Regions from separate parts of the Homo sapiens genome. Here region 1 is linked to region 2. Evidence: fine-mapped expression QTL. A gene starts in region 2. The other region holds a variant in brackets. All regions are shown on one strand. Distances are between the middles of the regions. Region 1 has its middle 6.6 kb from the start of OR10H2. Region 2 holds the start of CYP4F12 (cytochrome P450 family 4 subfamily F member 12).

What was found. PIP is the estimated chance that this variant, and not a neighbour inherited with it, causes the effect. A credible set is the group of variants that fine-mapping cannot tell apart.
Region 1: its variant is the best candidate, but not a certain one, in a credible set for the expression of CYP4F12 in whole blood (INTERVAL, PIP 0.51).

The regions. Positions count from the first base shown.
Region 1 is chr19:15,720,012-15,722,816 of GRCh38, reverse strand. No RefSeq gene overlaps it. Among named protein-coding and RNA genes, the nearest start is that of OR10H2, 6.6 kb to the left of the region's middle. The variant A/G (reference allele first, on the strand shown) is at 1,201.
Region 2 is chr19:15,671,719-15,674,523 of GRCh38, reverse strand. It overlaps CYP4F12 (cytochrome P450 family 4 subfamily F member 12), which reads right to left and starts at 1,437. Exons shown (of 13, transcript NM_023944.4): 1 at 1,389-1,437; 2 at 797-995. The coding sequence starts at 994.

The DNA.
Region 1 (2,805 bases), 48 kb before region 2:
AAGAAAGAAAGAAAGAAAGAAAGAAAGAAAGAAAGAAAGAAAGAAAGAAAGAAAGAAAGAAAGGAGGAAGAAAAGAAAAAGAAAAGAGAAAGAAAAGAAAGAGAAAAGAAAAAGAAACATCTTCTCCATCTACTTCCTTTCACTGCATTCTGCCCTTGAGTCAGGGACTGTGCGACAAATTCCTCTGTTTCTTCCATCTGATCCCAAATACATGAAATCTGGCAGATACTCATTTTTTTAATGTGTATGTATTTATGCTGTACAACATGACGTTTGGATATCTGTATACACTGCGGAATGGTTCATTCAAGACTGTTAACATGTGCATTATCCCACATAGTTATCATTCTTTTCTGTGATGGCAATACTCAAAATCTACTCTCGTTAATTTTCAAATATACAATAGATTGTTATTAATTATAGTCATCATGATGCACTAGATCTCTTGGTCTTCCTGTCTAACTGAAATTTTATGTTCTTTGACCAACATCAAAAAGATGAAAGATAAAAAAAATGTTGGCAAGAATGTGAAGAAAAGGGAACTCTTGTAAACTGTAGGTGGGATTGTAGATGAGTACAGCCATTATAAAAAACAGTATAGAGGTTCCTCAGAAAATTAAAAATGGAATTATCATATAATCCAGCATATAATATCCAGCATATCATATAATCTGGGTATAGTATATACCCAAAGGATATGAAATCAGTATATTAAAGAGATATCTTCACTCCCACATTCATTGCAGCACTATTCACAAAAGTCAAGAGATGGAATCAACCTAAGTGTACATCAACGGATAAATGGATGAGGTAATAAATACACATGGAATACTATTCAGCCTTGAAAAAGAAGGAAATCCTCTCATTCACGACAACATGGATGAACCTAGAAGACATTGTGTCAAGTGAAACAAGCCACGCAGGTTCTCTTTAGTATTAATGGTAATTTATTCTAGATGAATTCCTTTTTTGGATCTTTTCACCTCAATGAGTTTCAGAGAAGGGAAAAGGGCTGTAAGCAGGAGCCTGCAGCATTTTCATTGCATTTATCTTGCGGTATCTGAATGACTGATGCACTGGTCTGTCTCCCTTCTTTGCCCAGAAGCTCTTAGAGGTGGAATCCAGGTCGCAGTCACCATTCTAGCACATATTAGGTGTGTCATAAATATTCATAGGATAACATTTTCACTAAAGATCGGA[A/G]GGCTGAGTTGGGTTGAAGGGCTCTTCAATGTCTTGGTCAACTTCTTGCTCAAGAGGTCTCCTCCATCTGAGATAAGCACTGCCTGACAATAAATATTAGTAGAAACAGGTAACCTCATGCTTGATCTGCTCTTTGGTAACAGGGAGAAATAGAAAGAGCCACACTGGCTGCTTAAGATGATGAGAGTGATCAGCCTCAACCCCTAAAGACTGTGCATGAGATAACTCTTATCTCCAGCTCAGAGGAAGTTCAGCCTCAGCTACCACACACTTAACAGATGTATCCAGAGCATTGGAGCTCATCACTGAGCCAGGAGCTGTGGACACTGCAATGGCCAGTGCAGACTTAGTGCCTGTTCTTGTGGACTTTACAGTGGAGGAGAGAAGGTAGATGATGAATAACTGAATTTCAGACAAGAGCAGGAGGAGCATAAGGAAGGGATGGTAGTGGCTACAGGAGTAGGCAAATGAATCCTCAGAAAGCAGGACAGGCTGATAGGAGAGAACTTCACGGAGGAGGTAGCACTTCATTTGAGTCATTCTGCAGAGGGAGAGGAAAGGTTGTGCACCAAGCAGAGGGAAGGGCATGTGCAAAGGACTTAGGGTGGGAAAATGACTGCTCATCCAAGGAACCGAAGAAGGCCAATATGGAAGGGGCCTTGGGCAGCTAGGAGTGAGGAGTGGCTCAAGGAGCCTAAAAGACAGGCAGAGGTTTGCATCCAAAGGACCTTTCCCCATAATCCATCAGACCTGAGTTGACACAGGGGATACACACATAAGGGCAGGTGGGTTCAAATGATGTCAACTACATCTACAAAATGAATTTCAGATTAACTGGAGAATAGCCATCCACATTTTAGAAGGGTTTTGCAACTCACAGACATGGAATGGGGTTGCAATGAGAGAGTCATTTGTTTGTTTTCTCTGCGATTATTTATTGAGCATCTATTAGGTGCCAAGCAGTGAGAACACAAGGTTGGGCAAATCCAGTGTGGCCTTATCTTCTTGGGGGGAACGTTGAGTAGAGAAAGATAGTAGGTATTGAACAAGTCATTTATATAATAAGGAGAGTGTGGTAAGTATTAGGATGGAGGAAGCAGAAGCCTGGCCCACCTCGGAGCTCTGGAGACCTTACCCTCCATCCCATCGGGCAGCACAAAATGCTCACAGGGGCCACTCTTGGCACCAAGTACTTTGCATACTTTGGTTCTGATGTCCAAGATGCTGTGGTGCTTTCTGTAACATTTGGCTATGTGGAGCTCTGGGACTATAGTGTCTTGGGGAAGAAAGAGCCACTTCCAATGCCTACCTATGTCTCTTGCTGCTAATCAGACACCTAAGTTTGGACCTGAGGCTAAATGGAAAACTCTCTGGGACCATTTCCCCAGAGTAAGATGAGCCGTGTTTCTGTCTCCACTTAATCCCTGAGCTATGCATTCAAACCTAACCTCCCTGCAGCTCTGTAGCTGATCCTTAGAGACCCTTTCATTTGCAAAAAAAAAAAAAAGAAAAAAAATGAAGTGGAGATGGAAATTGTGTGTCAACTTTTAATGAGTCACCAGGTGTTAGTGAAAATCCCATGGCTTGTTCACTATCAAAACTTAG
Region 2 (2,805 bases):
AGTGAGTGAGCAGACGAATAAGAGTGAGGAGAGGAATGAGTGAGTGAGGAGAGGAATGAGTGAATGAGAGGAATGCGCGAATGAGAGGAATGCGCGAGTGAGGAGAGGAATGAGTGAGTGAGGAGAGGAATGAGTGAGTGGGTAGAGGAATGAGTGAGTGAGGAGAGGAATGAGTGAGTGGGTAGAGGAATGAGTGAGTGAGGAGAGGAATGAGTGAGGAGGGGAATGAGTGAGTGAGGAGAGGAATGAGTGAGTGAGGAGGGCAATGTGTGAGTGGGTAGAGGAGTGAGTGAGTGGGTAGAGGATTGAGTGAGTGGGTAGAGGAGTGAGTGAGTGGGTAGAGGAATGAGTGAGTGAGGAGAGGAATGAGTGAGTGAGGAGAGGAATGAGTGAGTGAGGAGAGGAGTGAGTGAGTGAGGAAAGGAGTGAGTGAGTGGGTAGAGGAATGAGTGAGTGAGGAGAGGAATGAGTGAGTGAGGAGAGGAGTGAGTGAGTGGGTAGAGGAGTGAGTGAGTGGGTAGAGGAGTGAGTGGGTAGAGGAATGAGTGAGTGGGTAGAGGAATGAGTGAGTGGGTAGAGGAGTGAGTGAGTGGGTAGAGGAGTGAGTGAGTGGGTAGAGGAGTGAGTGGGTAGAGGAATGAGTGAGTTAGCAGAGGAATGAGTGAGCCATCTCTCTTGCTTCTCTGGGGTCGCAGACCCCAGCCACCATCAATACCTAGCTCACTGAGCCCCATTCCTGCTCCTCTGGAAGTCCATCCACCCTGAGACCCCAGACACATTTTGCTGTCACACTCACCAGGCCCAGGTGACCCCAAAACCAGTTCCGTTTTGGGGGCTGTGGGAAACACTGGAGCCGGCGGCAGTTGTTATAGAAGGCATAGGTCCAAGCCAGGATGCGGGCGAGTAGCCAGGAGCCCACAACCAGCAGCAGGAGTAGCCATGGGGACGTTGCCACCGGTCTGAGGCCCAGCCAGGGCAGGCTCAGCAGCGACATCCTGCAGGGCAGAGGGGATGCAGGGTGAGGACCTGAGGCCCAGGGAAGAGCTCCGGGGACAGTGTATAGGGGCGAAGTCAGGAACTGCTGGGGGCAGGGCAGGGAGGGCTCAGGGGTGAGTAAACGAGGGCTGAGATCTGAAGTCCAGAAAGTCCCAACCAAAACCAACAACTAAGTGGCCTCCAGTAACCTGGTAACCACACAGAAAGGGAAAGAGATGGGCCGATTAGAGTCCAGAAGGGCCCCACCTGAATCCTTGGGAGTTTGCTAGGAGTCCAGTTACCAGGAAACCCCCAGTTTCCCATGCCAGCATCTTGGAGCCACCCCAGCCTTAGGCAGTCCCCTCTTCATCCCAGGCCAGGACCTTCCAGCCCTGCCACCCCCAGCCTGGTACCTTCTGTCGGGAGCAGCTTGTCCCACACAACCTCTTCTCCTCTTCTGCTGGGAGGTCTTTGGCCCTGGCCCCTGATCTAGGGAAGGCCGTAGGAGGCGGGGCTGGGCTGGGCTGGGCTGAGGCAGCCAATCCCCACAGCCTGGGTGTGTCTTCCGTGCCTGGGCAGCCAGCCAAAACCTGGGGTTGGGCCCACTGGGTGCAGCTCAGGGTGCCCCAGCACGAGCACTGAATTCTCAGGTCTCAGTACCTTCTTGGGAGTTTGCAGGGGAAGTTGGAGGGTGGTTAGAGGGGACTCTGAACCCCAAGTTTACCTCCACCCTGCCCTTCCAAGACAAGGGTGTTCAGATAAAAGCATATACTTATCATGACAGTTGGCAGCCAGCTGAGCTGGGCCAGGCCAACCCTTGTCCCAGATCATCTGGGCTCCTCTCCAAACATGGGCGGGGAGGATGTCAGGCACTACATCTTGGTGCAGACTTAGGAGATTCAGAGACAGAAGCCTCTCATCTCTGGCTTCACAGCCTGGCAAGAGTTCAAGTCCTGCCTCCTGGCAGCCCAGGGCCTGAGTTGAGGCCTGACTGCTTGAAGCAGGAAGAAAGAATCCAGCCCCAACCCCGCTGAGGATTACCTTCGTCAGATTCTGGGGATAAAGAGCCCAGCTGGAGGAGCAAACCTAGAAGCTGGGCTCAGCTTAGGAGGACAGAGCGGAGGCACAGGGGATGAGGCTGAGAGGGGCCTTGAGCTGACGGGGTCCAGGCAGGGGAGGGCAGAGCAAGGGGATCCCGAGTGGAGTCCTTGTTCTGCCCTGTCCTTTCTCTGACTGTGGGCAGTGTGGCCATCCTGGGCTCAGGCTTCCCATCTGGGAAATGGGATGTCAGATGAGGCCTTAGAGGGCGACGGAGGAAGGCTCCTAAGAAAAGGGAGCTCCAAAAAGAGGGACTGAAGGGAAGGGGATGACAACTAGCACTTGAGCTGCTGTGTGCCTGTCTCTACTCCATGCGAAAGACTGTACGGAAAGCACTACTGTGTGCACCTACTGTGTGCCAGTTTCACTATATAAAGTGCACTTACTGTGTATCAGATACTGTACATAAATTCTGTCTACTATGTGCCAGGTATGCCACATAAAGCTCACCTACTGTGTGCAGCATGCTGTACATAATGTAAGCTTACTTTATGCAGAGTACTTCATATAAAGCGTGCCTACTCTGTGCCATGTGCTGTATATAAAGCATACCTACTGTGTGTCAGGTGCTCCACATTGAGCATGTGTACTACGTACCTGGTGACCCACAGAAAGCGCACCTACTCTGCATCAAGTAATCTACATAAATCTTGTCTACTGTGTGCTGGCTATTCTACATATAGTGCACCTACTGTGTGCCAGGAGCTCCACATAAATACTGTCTACTGTATG